2 separate regions of the Homo sapiens genome follow, and region 2 is linked to region 1. Evidence: fine-mapped expression QTL. Tissue or cell type: whole blood. Region 1 holds a variant in brackets; the other region holds the start of a gene. All regions are shown on one strand. Distances are between the middles of the regions.

Region 1 (8,000 bases):
AAAAGCAGAAGGAAGTAAGGAAGAGCCGAGAGGGAGAGGGGTCTCAGCTTAAATGTCACTTCCACAGAGAATGTCCCTGAACAATGGAGGTAAGATAGCTCCCCCTCCCACCCTCACCTACCACAGCCACATCTCCTGTTTCATTCATTTATTTTTTAATAGAGACAGGATCTCACTCTGTGGTCCTAGCTGTAGTGCAATCATAGCTCTCTGCAGCCTCCAACTCCTAGCCACAGGCGATCCTCCCACCTCAGCCTCCCATGTAGCTAGGGCTACAGGCATGTGCCACCAAGCCCAGCTAAATTTTTTTTTATGTTTTGTAGAGACGGGGATCTCCCTATGTTGCCCAGGCTGATCTCAAACTCCTGGGCTCAAGCAATTCTCCCACCTCGGCCTCCCAAAGTACTGGGATTACAGGCATGAGCCACTGCACCCAGCCACCTACTTTATTTTCTTTGTAGAAAGCATCCCATAAGAACGCAAGTACCATACAAGAAATAAAATAAGCTGGGCACAGTGGCTCACGCTTGTAATCTCAGCACTTTGGGAGGCCAAGATGGGCAGGTCACTTGAGGTCAGGAATTTGAGACCAGCCTGGCCAACATGGTGAAACCTCGTCTCTACTAAAAATACAAAATTTAGCTGGGCATGGTGGTGGGTGCCCGTAATCCCAGCTACTCGGGAGGCTGAGGCAGGAGAATTGCTTGAACCTGGGAGCCAGAGGTTGCAGTGAGCCAAGACCGTGCCACTGCATTCCAGCCTGAACAACAGAGTGAGACTGTCTCAAAAACAAACCAACAAACAAACAAAATGAAAATTCTGTTTTGCTTTCCATTTTAGTCCTAGTGCCTAGAAGAGTGCCCTGGATATAGTAGGTGCTCAATTTAAAAACTGTTGAGTGGGCTCACGCTTATAATCCCAGCACTTTGGGAGGCCGAGGCAGGTGGATCACGGGGTCAAGAGATCGAGACCATCCTGGCCAACATGGTGAAACCCTGTCTCTACCAAAACTACAAAGATTAGCTGGGCGTGGTGGTGTGTGCCTGTAGTCCCAGCTACTCGGGAGACTGAGCCAGGAGAATCGCTTGAACCCAGGAGGCGGAGGTTGCGGTGAGCCGAGATTGTGCCACTGCACTCCGGCCTGGCGACAGAGCGAGACTCCATCTTAAAAAACAGAACAAAACAAACAAACAAAAAACACCTGTTGAGTGGATTAACACACACTTCCATGTAGATGTAGTCTGGCAAACAGGCACATGCCCAAGTGGAGAGGGCTAAGCTGCCGACTGCGTGGAGGACCCCATAGTTCCGGCGTCAAAGCCCCACCTTCTTGTTGTCTCGGTCTCCTGAAGAGTCATCCCGAACCTGGAAGCTGTGCAGGTTTACAAAGTCCTTGAGGTCATAGGAGTCTCCCCTGCGCTTACAGATGAGTAGAGCTTTGTCGAGCAGGAAGGCATACCTGGAAGGATGGATAACGCATTCCTGTCTGGCTCTTCCCAACTGTCCCCATCAGCCCTCTGACCAGTTCCTCCACATCCTGGTCCCACCCTGCCCTTCTCCTCCTCCTTGGCCAACTTGGCCATGCCCACCTGTCCATCCTGACTTCACCCACGTGATCCGCATTGGCCCTACTGCCTGTCAGTCTTCGCTCCACCCATACCCCTCGCTGGCCCTGTCCTGCCTGTCCATCAAGGCTCCACCGCCTTCTCTGGATGGGTCTACCACCTGTCTGTCTAGAAATCTTGCCTCACCCCCACTCAGGTCCCTCCCCAAATTCATCTTAATTCCACCTACAAGTCTACATAAGAACCTGGCCCCACCCCTACCCAGGCTCCACCCCAGATCTGTGTTGGCTCCACCCACCTGTCCATCTAGGAGCCTGGCCACGCCCCTATCCAGGCTCTTCCCCAGACCTATGTTGACTCCACCCAACTGCCTATCTAGAAACCTGGCCCCATCCCTACCCAGGCTCCACCACAGATATGGTTTGCTCCACTCACCTACCCATCTAGGAGCCTGGCCCCCACCTTGCCCAGGCTCCACCCAGATCTGTGTTGACTCCACCCACCTGCTCATCTAGGAGCCTGGCACCATCCCTGCCCAGGCTCCTCCCAGATCTGTGTTGACTCCACCCATCTGCCTATCTAGAAGCCTGGCTCTGCCCCTGCCCAGGCTCTGCTCCAGATCTATGTCGACTCCACCCACCTGTCCATCTAGAAGCCCGGCCCCGCCCCTGCCCAGGCTCCACCCAGATCTGTGTTGACTCCACCCACCTGCCCATCTAGGAGCCTGGTCCCACCCCTTTGCCCAGGCTCCATCCCAGATCCATGTTGACTCCACCCACCTGTCCATCTTGGAGCGCCGTTCCACCGAGGTGATCTTGAGTTCCCCGTCGATCTTGGGCCGGCCATAGTGAGCCAGAGACTGGTCCTATGCAGTAGGCAGGGGGTCTAGCAAGGGTCTCCCAAGAAAGGAGCCAGACACACACTCTCCCCACGTGGCCACACCCCTGGCCCACCCGGCTCCACCGCCTCACCAGGTTCTCAATGGACAGCTGGAAATTGGTGATCTGTCGCAGTGTCTCGTTGTCTCGCTTGACCTCGTTCACGCACTGAGCCAGGTCCTGGGGAGGGGGCAGGGGTGAACCTGGCCCCCCAACAGCCGACCCAGGCTCCTACCTAATCCCGGCTAGAGGATCAGCCCCTACCAGGAGGGTGTCTGCAGCAGGTGAGTCACCAGCACCCTACACCCACTCACCCTCATGGCATCCAGGGCCAGCCGCAGGTTCTCCTTCTCCATCGCCTCCTGCGTGTGTTTCACCAGCTCCTGAGAGAACCAAGACGTCAGACGTCACCTGGGCCCCTCCCCTTCTCCCTGCGGGGAGGGCCTTCCAAACAATGCTAGCTCACCAGCTCCTCCATCGTACTGCTGACCCTGGAGGCTGAGACATGACCCCAGTGACCCATCCCCGAGCGTCCTAGAGACCCAACCCCCAGAAGCCAGCCCCGTCCCCACTTTTATAGACACAGGAGAGTAGGTACGTGGAGCCCACGCCTAGAGATGTGCCTGGCACCTGGAGAAGGAGGTGATATTTGAGAACTCGCTGCATAGGCACCATCAGCAGGTCCCGCAGGGTGAACCTCCCGTTGTTGGCTCTCTGAGAACATTCCTGGGGAATCAGAGAACAATGGGGAAACTGAGGCAGGTCCCAGAAACAGCCAGTTGCAGGGTGGGTGCAGATAGATTTGAATAAATACGTGAGCAGCTCTCCACCCCAGAGCTGTGGGAATTTTTCTAGAGGCCAAAGCATCATATCTGCCCCCAAGGAAACAGGAAAAGGACTCCATGAGGTGGGGGCAGCTTGAGAACCACTGGAAGGAACTTTGGGAGGCCGAGGCGGGAGGATCACTTGAGGTCAGGAGTTCAAGACCAGCCTGGCCAACACGGGGAAACCCCGTCTCTGCTATGAAAAAAAAAAAAATAGCTGGCGTGGTGGCAGACTCCTGCAATCCCAGCTACTCAGGAGACTGAGGCAGGAGAATTGCTTGAACCCGGGAGGCAGAGATGGCATTGAGCTGAGATCACACCACTTCACTCCAACCTGGGTGACAGAGGGAGACTCCATCTCAAAAAACAAAGACAAACAAACAAACAAAAAAGCAATGGGAAGAGGCTGGGCACGATTGCTCAGGCCTGTAATCCTAGCTCTTTGAGAGGCTGAGTGGGTGAGTCGCTTGAGCCCAGGAGTTTGAGACCACCCTGGATAA[C/T]ATGGTGAAACCCCATCTCTGCAAAAAACACAAAAATTAGCCAGGAATGGTGGCATGCATCTGTAGTCCCAGCTACTCAGGAGGCCAAGGTAGGAGTTGGGAGGATTGCTTGAGTCCAGGAGGTCGAGGCTGTGGTGAGCTATGATCATGCCACTACACTCCAGCTTGGGGGACAGAATGAGACCCTGTCTCAAAAAAACAAAACAAAACAAAACAAACAAACAAACAAACCCACTGGAATGTGGCAAATGCTGCCTGGGATAGAGGTCCAGTATTCTGCCTGCTGAGGGGGGCTGGAGATGGGGAGGGGGACAGATCTGGAGAGCCCCCGTCCTCACCACCCCTGCCCTGTCTGTGTTTCCACCAGACAGATCCAGGTTGAAGTTCAGTTCAAGATCAAGTTCAGCCTGGGATCAGGGGTTGGTTGGAATTGGGGTTCAGTGAGAAGTGGGAGCTCAGCCCGACTTGGGGTACAATCAGTGCTAGGGCTCAGCCCAGGGCTGGGGTTGAGTGTGAGATCAGAGCTCAGTTCAGGGTCAGGACTTCACCCTGATATCAGGGGTCAGCCCAGACCCAGGGCCAGCCCATTTCTGTTCTTCTCCATTTCCTCTGCTTGGCTGGCTAGTACCTCCCTCCCTAGTCCTTTGGTGGATCTCTGGCTGGGCTGCAGCAGAAAGTGGACCATCTGCAACTCAGTGTCCTCCCTGCTGCCCCCAGGGCCTGGGGAGGAGCGGGAGAGGCCCCCGAGAAGTGGCCCGGCGCCCACCTCCAGCTTCATCTGCACGTCCTCCCGGGCTGCGGCCACACGGTCCAGGTGTTTGCTGGCTGACTCCACCTGGCTGCAGTAGCGGCCATAGACGAGGAACCTACAGGGAGAAGACAGGCCACCAGGTAAAGGTGACTGGCATCAAGGTCGGGCAGAGGCTGGCGTCAGCCCTGGCCTTGCTCTTCCCCGCTGGAGAAGAAACCTGAGTCCCAGTTTCTCCATCTGTGAAATGGGCATAACAATAGCATCTCCCATGTGAGGCTATTGTAGCATTATCTCATTTAATGCTACAGTAATTTCACCACAGTACCTGGTATTGTCTCTGCCCAATGTTTATTTATTTTTATTTAATTTAATTAATTTATTTATTTTTGAGACGGGGTTTCACGCTTGTCTCCCAGGCTGGAGTACAGTGGTGTGATCTGGGCTCAGTGCAACCTCCATCTCCCGGGTTCAAGCGATTCTCCTGCTTCAGCCCCCCGAGTAGCTGGGATTACAGACACCTGCCACCATGCCTGGCTAATTTTTGTATTTTTAGTAGAGACGGGGTTTTGCCATGTTGGCCAGGCTGGTCTCGAACTCCTGACCTCAAGTGATCTGCCCTCCTCGGCCTCCCAAAGTGCTGGAATTACAGGCGTGAGCCACCACGCCTGGCCTGTTTTTATTTCTGAGACAGAGTCTTGCTCTGTTGCCTAGGCTGGAGTCCAGTGGCATGATCTTGACTCACTGCAACCTCCGCCTCCCGGGTTCAAGCAATTCTCCTGAGTAACTGGGATTACAGGTGCATGCCACCACGCCCAGCTAATTGTTTTTTGTATTTTTAGTTGTATTTTAGTTGTATTTTTAGGCGATGGAGACGGGGTTTCACCATATTGGCCAGCCTGGTCTTGAACTCCTCACCTTAAATGATCCACCCGCCTCAGCCTCCCAAAGTGCTGGGATTACAGGCATTAGCCACCACACCTGGCCAATGTTCCTTCATTTAACAAATACTTATTGAGCATCTACTATGTGCCAGGCCCTGTGTGCATCCGTATAGTCAACCCTCACCACCAGCCTAGGAGGCACATTCCTGTGGCCCACTGATGTACAGATGAGGAAGCAGAAGCACAGAGAGGTTAAGTGACTACCCAGTGCCACACAGCAGAGCTGGGAATTGAACCAGAGATGGGCAGCCCCTCGCCCATGAACACACAGCAAAAAGTCCTCCCCGTCCAGTGGTGTCTGAGGGTAAGGTCTCTCAGATGCCCAGCCTAGGCAAGACAGAGTGACCCCAGAGCTTCAGTCTGGCCAGCTGGGTCTCACCTCTCCTTGTATTTGATGAAGACCTGGTAGAGATTGGCTGCGCCAGGGGTGCCCAGGGCTTCCTTCATCTCCTTTAGGAAGTGAGTATGAACACGAAGCAGGTCCTACTCGGAGGGAAGGGTGAGGGCTGGGACCAGAGCCCAGGGCTCAGGGGGCCAGGAAGGAAAGGGTCATCCACCCGCCCCATGCCGCTCAACTCCCAACCCCCGTACTCCAGGGAGAGGTAGGGGCAGCAGGTTATCCGCACTAGACAGACCCAAGAGGGCTGGGGATCGGCCGGCTCACCTCAATGTTGATAAAGATGATCTCAATGTCTTGAGGTTTCAGGAACCGTTGCAGGGGCTTCAAGAAATGCTGCGGGGAAGGGAGAGAAAGATGACGGAAGATAAGATTCCCTCCTCCAGACCAGTCTCAGAGAGACAGGGGAAGGAGACAGAGAGAGGGAGATAAAGAGAGGCAGCGCGTCCACACAAAAACTTGTACAAGAATGTTCACAGTGAAATTATTCATAATAACCCAAAAGCGGAAACAACCAAAATGCTTATCAATGGGTAAATGGGTGTTTCAAATGTGGTCCGGCCAGGTGCGGTGGCTCACGCCTGCAATCCCAGCACTTTGGGAGCCTGAGGTGGGTGGATCACGAGGTCAGGAGTTCAAGACCAGCCTGGCCAAGATGGTGAAACCCCGTCTCTACTAAAACTACAAAAATAAGCTGGGCACGGTGGCAGATGCGTGTGATCCCAGCTACTCAGGAGGCTGAAGCAGGAGAATCACTTGAACCTGGATGGCAGAGGTTGCAGTGAGCTGAGATCACGCCACTGCACTCCAGCCTGGGTGACAGAGTGAGACTCTATCTCAAAAAAGAAAAAAAAAATGTGGTCCATCCATACAATGGAATATTATTCAGCCATGAAAAGGAATGAAGCTCTGACACAGGCTACAATGTGGATGAACCTTGAAAACACTACGCTCAGCAAAAGAAGCCAGACACATATAAACCACATAGTATGTGATGCCCTTTATATGAAATGTCCAGAAGAGGCCAATCCACAGAGACAGCGAGTAAGCTCGTGGTTGCCATGGACCGGGGGAAGATAAGAGATTGAAGGGGAACAGCTAAAGAGTTTGGGGTTTCTTTGGGAGATGATGAAAACGTTCTAAAATTAAGGCCGGGGTGGTGGCTCACACCCAAAATCCCAACACTTTGGGAGGCCAAGGCAGGAGGATCACTTGAGGCCAGGAGTAGGAGACCAGCCTGGGCAACATAGCAAGACCCCATATCTACAAAAAAAATTAAAGAATTAAGCAGGGTGTGGTGGCATGCACCCGTGGCCCCAGCTCCTCAGGAGGTTAAGGCAGGGGGATCACTTGAGCCCAGGAGTTCGAGGCTGCAGTGAACTATGATCGTGCCACTGCACTCCAGCCTGGATGGGAGAGTGAGACCACATTTCAAAACAAAACAAATCAAAAAAAAAGAAACAAAAAAAACCAAAACAAAACAAATGAAAATATTCCAAAATTAGACAGTGATGATGACTGCATAATCTTGTGTGTGCCAAAAACCATTGAACTGTATATTCTAAATGGGTGGATTACATGTATATTAATGAAATCTCAATAAAGCTATTTTTAAAAGAAATGGAGAGGTGAGGATACAGAAAAAGACTGAGCCTGGGATAAAGAGCTACAAAGGAGAGAATGACACACTGAGGAAGAAAGTAGCGAGAGGAGACCCAGAGGGAAAAAGAGACAGAGTGAGAGATAAAGAGAGAGACAGAGAGACAAGAGGAAGAGGCCCAGTGCAGCCTCACAAAGGGCTTGGATTACAGGAGGATTGCTTGAGCCCAGGAGTTTAAGACCAGCCTGGTTAACATAACAAAAAATATATATAAAATATATATTTGTATCTATTACATATCTTATACATACTTTATATATATATCTTTAAATAATGATATATATCTTTAAAAGATAGATATATAAGCCAGGCACAGTGGCTCATGCCTGCAATCCCAGCACTTTTGGAGGCCGAGGTGGGCAGATCACTTGAGGTCAGAGTTCGAGACCAGCCTGGCCAACATGGCAAAACCTCGTCTCTACTAAAAATACAAAAATTAGTCGAGCATGGTGGTGCATGCCTGTAATCCCAGCTACTTGGGAGG
Region 2 (8,000 bases), 54 kb after region 1:
GGATGGGTGGATGGATGGATGGATGGATGGATGAGTAGATGGATGGATGGGTGGGTGGGCAGGTGGATGATAGATAGATGAATGGATGGGCCGGGCGTATGGCTCACACCTGTAATCCCAGCACTTTGGAAGGCTGAGGCGAGTGGATCACAAGGTCAGGAGTTCAAGACCAGCCTGGCCAATATGGTGAAACCCCATCTCTACTAAAAATATAAAATTAGCCGGGCGTGGTGGCGGGTGCCTGTAGTCCCAGCTACTCAGGAGGCTGAGGCAGGAGAATTGCTTGAACCTAGGAAGCAGACGTTGCAGTGAGCCGAGATCATGCCCCTGCACTCCAGCCTGGGTGACAGAGTGAGACGCCGTAAATAAATAAACAAATAAATAAAAAAGACAGATTAGTGGATGGATGGATCCATGGATAGATGGGTGGGTGGATAGGTGAATGGGTGGGTGGGTGGATGGGTGGATACATGGATGGAAAAGTAGATGGATGGATAGACTGATAGATGGATAAATGAGTGGATGGATGGATGGATGGATGGATGAGTGGATGGACGGATGAGTGGGTGAATGAGTGGGTGGTTGAATGGATGGATGGATGGATGGATGGATGGATGGATGAGAGGATGGATGGATAGATGAGTGGATGGATGAATGGATGAATGGATGGATGGATGGGTGGGTGGATGGGTGGGTGGATGGATGGATGGATGGATGGATGGATGGATGGATGGATAGATGGGTGGGTGGATGGGTAGATGGATGGATGGATGGATGGATGGATGGATAGATGAGTGGATGGATGAATGGATGAGCAGATGGATGGATGGATGGATGGATGGATGGATGGATGGATGAGTGGATAGATGAATGGATGAGCAGATGGATGGATGGATGGATGGATAGATGAGTGGATGGATAAATGGATGAGCAGATGGATGGAGGAGTGGATGGATGGATGGATGGATGGATGGATGGATGGGTGGATAGATGAGCAGATGGATGAATGGATGAGCAGATGGATGGATGGATGGATGGATGGATGGATGGATGGATGGATGGATAAATGGATGGATGGATGGGTAGATGGATGGATAATTGGAGGGATAGATGAGTGGATGAATGAGTGGATGGGTGGATGAACGGATGGATGAATATGTTCTTTCCACCCTCTTCCCAAGAAACAACTGAGAAAAAAGAGAAGGACTCCGAAGAGAAATGACAGAAACTGGGAAGAATTCTCATTCCAGCCTGCACACCTTTATTTATGCCATTTCCTCCACAGGAGCACCTTTCCTTTTTCCCTCTACCCTTTCACATCCCATGGGGCATTCACAGCTCTGCTTCAATCTGTGGACAGTTAGGCACCCAGAAACCCAGAGAGGTTGTTCCTGTGGCAGCTTCCTCTGGCTTCTTGTCAAGACCTCTTACCTTCCCTCACACGTCCCCACTACATACCAGACACACGGCCGGGCTTCAAAGGGCAACAAAATGGGTAGGGGCAGGAATGTGCCCCCTCGAAGAGGGAAAGGGTCTGGGTACACCGATGCCCAGCCTGGAGCCTGATACAGCTGGGCACAGGAAGCCAGAACAATGAGAAAAACTCCTATTTACTCTTCAAAACCCCAGCACAAATGTCCCCTCTTGCATAAAGCCTGACCCCATCTGGGTTCCCGTTGTTCCCTGTTACAGAGGATTAGGACTGTATTTGGAGTGCAGCTGCTCTCCCAGGGATTAGCATCATGCACCCTCGTCCTTCATCCAAAAACTAGCTTTAGCTAAGACATACACAAGAATGGAAGTTCATCCTTAAGTCTATCCACTTTCCCATTAGCTGCTATTGAAGCATCACAGAGAGCTTGACTCCCTGCCAGGTCTAACAGATGGGGCCTAACAGATCCCATGACTACTTCCTCATGCCCTAGAAACCAGAAGATTAAGCAAATGTAGGCAAAGCTGGGATGGGCTGTGGCCAGAGGATGGATGCTTAGGTTGGTGGGGGGAGTGCCTTCTCCTTTCAGGAAGCCCTGTCCCAGCTGAGGACAGTGTAATCCCCTGGCACTAAAGAAACAGAAGGGCCGGGCATGGTGGCTCATGCCTGTAATCCCAGCCTTTCGAGAGGCCGAGGTGGTCAGATCACCTGAGGTCAGGAGTTCAAGGCCAGCTTGGTCAACATGGGAAAACCCCATCTCTACTAAAAATACAAAAAAAAAAAAAAAATTAGGCAGGCATGGTGATGTGTGCCTGTAGTCGCAGCTACTTGGGAGGCTGGGACAGGAGAACCACTTGAACCCAGGAAGTGGAGGGTGCAGTGAGCCAAGATTGCACCACCGCATTCCAGCCTGGGCAACAGAGCAAGACTCCATCTCAAAAAATAAAAGATAAGATAAAAAAAAACAGAAGGAGCAGCCGGGCACAGTGGCTCACACCTGTAATTCCAGCACTTTGGAAGGCCGAGGTGGGTGGATCATTTGAGGTCAGGAGTTCAAGACTAGCCTGGCCAACATAGTGAAACCCTGTCTCTACTAAAAATACAAAAATTAGCCAGGTGTGGTGGTGGGCGCCTGTAATCCCAGCTACTCAGGAGGCTGAGGCAGGAGAATTGCTTGATCCTGAGAGGCTAAGGTTGCAGTGAGCTGAGATCGCACCACTGCCTCCAGCCTGGGCGACAGAGTGAGACCCTGTCTTTAAAAAAAAAAAAAAAAAAAAAAAAAGGCTGGGCGCGGTGGCTCACACCTGTAATCCCAGCACTTTGGGAGGCCGAGGTGGGCGGATCATGAGGTCGGGAGATCGAGACCATCCTGGCTAACACGGTGAAACCCCTGTCTCTACTAAAAATACAAAAAATTAGCCAGGCGTGGTGGCGGGCGCCTGTAGTCCCAGCTACTCGGGAGGCTGAGGCAGGAGAATGACGTGAACCTGGGAGGCGGAGCTTGCAATGAGCCGAGATGGTGCCATTGCACTCCAGCCTGCGTGACAGAGTGAGACTCCGTCTCAAAAAAATAAATAAATAAATAAAATAAACAGAAGGAGTAAAGGCGCATGGATCTCTTCCACCAATGGCCCTGCCCCTGAAAACCACCCGCCAGGAACCCCCATGGGCCCATCTCCATTAACTTATCCTCCCAGCTCTTCATCTGCAGGGCCAGCCTGAGGACCAGATGGGAGCTGTCCCCTCAGACCTCAGGGCAGGACTGTGTCCCCCAGGCCCCAGGATAGGGCTGTATCTCCTTTCATCCCAGAGGAGATGGGACTCCACCAGCCCCGCCCCGTCCCCCGTTCCCACCCAGCAGCCCTGGGGAACCAGACATGATGCTACAGCAACATAATGCAGCCACATCACACGCCCACCCAACCACATTCAAATAGGGATTTGAATATATTTCCTGAGCCAGTCTCATACAGCCACAGTCAAATCCACCACCACCCCTCCAGCCTGGGCCCCTGCAGAAATCCCTGCCGAGAAAATGCAGCTCTTCCAAGCACCAAGACCTCAGGACCCACTCTCTGAGCCCAGGACTGGGCCCTGCCTTACTATCTCCTCTGAGATGGATGCAGGGAGGAAGCTCAGATCCCTGGGGCTGCAGCCCCCCACCTGCCCCATGCTGCCCCAGGCCCAGGCAGGAAGCCAAGGGGAAGGAAGATGTAAGGGGAAGGAAGGGGCCCAGGGCCCGGGAGGAGGAGACACATGTGGGGGAAGATGTTGGCGGAGGCTCCTCCCCCACATCCAGACTCTGGGGGTCAAAGGAGTCCAAAGCCTCAGGTAACCCAATGGCCACCCTGGGGGTTCTGGGGAGCTCCCCCGAGACCTCTGGTTGGTCCCATCTGGGGGCATGAACCACAGTAGAGGCGCCTGGGGCTTGAGAGAGTTAACCCCTAGTTTGCCAGTTCTCAGCCCAGATGCGGGCCAACTCAGGGCCCGTGAACCCACACAGGGAGCCTGTTAAGCTTGGGGAGGCCACCCCAGAATCTCAGATTGTGACCACCCCCTGGGCCAGCCCTGGACCTGTAAGCATATTCCCTCTCCTTTGCAGGCCCAGAGGTGGAGCAGCACGTCAGCCCCTCGACTGTCAGCCCCGGGGAGGACCCCCGTCTCCAACCCTCAGCACACCTGCCCGCGGAGGGCTCACCTGGGACATCTGGGGGCGCAGGTTGACCTCACGCAGGTTGATGGCATGGGGTAGCAGGTTGTTAAGCAGCTGACACAGAAGGACACCATCCCGGAGGGCCTGGGCCAGTTCACACACCTGAGCCCCATCCCAGGTCACGCGGTGGCTGGGCGGCAGCACCCGGCACTGGATGAGCCAGTGGGTGCATTGGCGCCACAGCTCCATGGCTACCGCCTGCCCAGGGCCGGCCGTGCACCCTCGCAGCCTCCACCACCCACCCGCCCGCACGCCTGCCCTGCTCGCCTGTGGAGCGACAGCTAGTGCTACCACTTCCTCTTCTTTGCCTGTAACTGTCGCCCTGAGAGGGGGTGGAGGAGGAGGAGCCATGGGGCGGGGGGGAGCTGGGGGAGCACCTGCAGCCCAGCCCCACCCCACGCCTTCCATGCAGAATCTGACATCTCTTTCTTCCGCCCACTCGACACAGGCCTGGGCATGGGGAGTTGGGGGGCTGGGGGAGTCAGGCCAGCTAGACTATGAGATGGGTGAGCTTCCTCCATATGCAGACGGCGGCAGTGACACTCTGAAATATACCCAGAATTCACCCACTTCTCACCCCCTCCTCTGTCTGGTCCAGCCCCGTCATCACTCAGCTGGTCTTCTGACTCCAGCCCCCGTACCCCACAGTCTGTCCTCCCTGCAGCCACCACCAGAGGTTGCCTGTGAGCATCTGAGTCAGGGCACACCCTTCTTCTGCCCACAACTCTCTATGGCTCCCACTTTCCTCCAGGGACAAGCCCAAGTCCTCCCCAAGGCCCACAAAACCCTGCTTGAATTGCCCAGTTCCCTCCCTGCCCTCCCCACTCCCTCTCTCCCCCTCTTCACTGTGCTCCAGCCACACGGGCCTCTTCGCTCTTCCTCCAACATGCCAGGAACATACGGCCCTGCCCCAGGGCCTTTGCACGGGCTGTGTCCTCCACCTTAAGCAACTTCATGGCTAGCTCCCTCACCCCTACATGTCTTTGCTCAAATGCTACCTTCTCATGAGGTCTTCCTAAATCCCCTCATTTCAAATCACAGCCTTTTCCGCATTCCATTAGCTCTACCCACCTCCCTAGGTTAAGCCCTGATCTTTGTCCAACAAATCTGATTTTTTAAGTTATTTTTTTCCTTCCTTCCTTTCTCTCCCTCTTTCCCTCCCTTCCTTTCTTCCTTCCTTCCTTCCTTCCTTCCTTCCTTCCTTTCTTTCTTTCCTTTCTTTCTCTCTTTGTTTCTTTCTTCTTTTTTTTTTTTTGAGACGGAGTCTCACTCTGTCACCCAGGCTGGAGTGCGGTGGCGCAATCTCAGTTCACTGCAAGCTCCGCTTCCCGGGTTCACGCCATTCTCCTGCCTCAGCCTCCTGAGTAGCTGGGACTACAGGCGTCCGCCACCGCGTCTGGCTAATTTTTTGTATTTTTAGTAGAGACAGGGTTTCATCGTGGTCTCGATCTCCCGATCTCATGATCCGCCCGCCTCAGCCTCCCAAAGTGCTGGGATTACAGGCGTGAGCCACCGCGCCAGGCTTCTTTCTTCTTTTTTTTTCTTTTGAGACGGAGTTTCACTCTCGTTGCCCAGGCTAGAGTGCAGTGGTGTGATCAGCTCACCACAACCTCTGCCTCCTGGGTTCAAGCGATTCTCCTGTCTCAGCTTCCCAAGTAGCTGAGATTACGGGCATGCATCACCACGCCCAGCTAATTTTGTATTTTTAGTAGAGACAGGGTTTCTCCATGTTGGTCAGGCTGGTCTCGAACTCCTGACCTCAGGTGATCCACCTGCCTCAGCCTCCCAAAGTGCTGGGATTACAGGCGTGAGCCACCGCGCCCGGCTTTTTTTTTTTTTTTTTTTTTTTTTTTTTGACAGGGTCTCATTCTGTCACCCAGGCTGGAGTGCAGTGGCATGATCTCAGCTCACTGCAAGCTCTGCCTCCCAGGTTTTCCCTGACCTCAGCCTCCCAGGCAGCTGGGATTACTGGCACCTGCCACCATGCCCAGGTAATTTTTGTATTTTCACAGAGACAGGGTTTCAGCATGTTGGCCAGGCTGGTCTCAAACTCCTGACCTCAAGTGATCTGCCCGCCTTGGTCTTCCAAAGTGCTGGGATTACAGGCTTGAGTCACTGTGCCCAGGCTCTTTCTTCTGTCATCCAGGCTGGAGTTCAGTGGCATGATCATAGCTCACTGCAGCCTCAAACTCCTGGGCTCAAGTGATCCTCCCGCCTCAGCCTCCCAAGTAGCTGGAACTACAGGCTTGTGCCACTGTGCCTGGCTAATTTTAAATTTTTTTGCAGAGAGGGGCTTTTACTATGTTGCCCAGGCTGGTCTTGAACTCCTGGCCTCAAGCAATCCTCCCACCTCGGCTTCCCAAAGTACTGGGATTACAGACGTGGGCCATGGCACCCGCTCATCATTGTTTCTTTATTGTCTGTTCAAGAATTTATGTTTCTTTGGTTCACTACTGACCCCTCTCTTATGCAGCACCTGACACATAGGCATGCCCCTTAAATACCTGTTGAATGAATAAATAATTGAAAGCTCTATTGACTGCACCTGACATTTATCCCAAATCCATCCCTTTATCACCATGTCCATGGTCACCACCCAAATCCAAGCCACCATCATCCCTCTCCTTATAGACTACAATAGTGTCTTTTTTTTTTTTTTTTTTTGTCTTGCTCTATGGACCAGGCTGGAGTGTAGTGGCGCAATCTCGGCTCATTGCAACCTCTGCCTCCCAGATTCAAGTGATTCTCCTGCCTCAGCCTCCCGAGTAGCTGGGATTATAGGTGTCACCATGCGTGGCTAAATTTTTGTATTTTCAGTAGAGACAGGGTTTCGCCATGTGGCCCAGGCTGGTCTCAAACTCCTGGCCTCAAGTGATCCACCTGCCTCAGCCTCCCAAAGTGCTGGGATTACAGGCACGAGCCACTGTGCCAGGCCCAATAGTGTCTTTCATTAACTCATTCAACAAACATTTACTGGCTTCCCGGCCATTACCTTATCATTAGCTGAAATCATCTTCATGAGATTAGGTCTCTCTGCCCCCATCCCTAGCTTCCACCCCAGTAGAGTGTAAGCAGGCCCTCCCCCGTCCACCTAATACGTGGCCCTCATCATGGAGTTTCTTTTTAAATTATCGTTATTATTATTCTTAGGAGAAAGTTTCACTCTGGTTGCCCAGGCTAGAGTGCAATGGTGCAATCTCTGCCCACAGCAACCTCTGCCTCCCAGGTTCAAGTGATTCTCCTTCCTCAGCCTCCCTAGTAGCCGGGATTACAGGTGCATGCCACCACACACAGCTAATCTGCTCACAGCAACCTCCGCCTCCCAGGTTCAAGTGATTCTCCTTCCTCAGCCTCCCCAGTAGCTGGGATTACAGGTGCATTCCACCACACCCAGCTAATTTTGTATTTAGTGGAGACAGGGTTTCACCATGTTGGTCAGGCTGGTCTGGAACTCCTGACCTCAGGTGATCTGCCCACCTCGGCCTCCCAAAGTGCTGGGCCCTCTTTTTAAATTATTATAACCACGAGGAGGCGCTAGACCCCTTCCCTGAACATGCCCCTACCCTCTGACTGTACCAATACCAGACCGGTGAGGGATAAGGAAGAAACTTTCTTCCCCTCTTGAGCCTGGAGTCTCTTCCATATTTGCCAGGGCCAGTCGGGGGAGCCCAGTCTGGAAATTCCCTGCTTTGCAACCTACAGGCATCAAAACTTTTCATCCCCAAGCATCGTTGGCCCTCTAGGCCTCAATTTCCTCATCTGTAAAATGGTGGGTGAGTAACTTTCACCGCAAAGCAGCATCGTGGAGAAAGTGGGCATGCGAAGATTGAAAAGGAGGCAGACAGGATAAAGCTC

What was found. PIP is the estimated chance that this variant, and not a neighbour inherited with it, causes the effect.
Region 2: it holds the start of VAV1, and the variant in region 1 is fine-mapped to the expression of VAV1 in whole blood (TOPMed, PIP above 0.99).

The regions. Positions count from the first base shown.
Region 1 is chr19:6,823,245-6,831,244 of GRCh38, reverse strand. VAV1 (vav guanine nucleotide exchange factor 1) reads right to left here. Exons shown (of 27, transcript NM_005428.4): 7 at 6,124-6,192; 8 at 5,839-5,942; 9 at 4,534-4,633; 10 at 3,074-3,169; 11 at 2,758-2,826; 12 at 2,537-2,623; 13 at 2,345-2,430; 14 at 1,327-1,459. Among named protein-coding and RNA genes, the nearest start is that of VAV1, 55 kb to the right of the region's middle. The variant C/T (reference allele first, on the strand shown) is at 3,768.
Region 2 is chr19:6,769,142-6,777,141 of GRCh38, reverse strand. It overlaps VAV1 (vav guanine nucleotide exchange factor 1), which reads right to left and starts at 4,434. Exons shown (of 27, transcript NM_005428.4): 1 at 4,131-4,434. The coding sequence starts at 4,334. RefSeq lists enhancers at 3,546-3,595, 3,704-4,204 and a silencer at 4,366-4,615.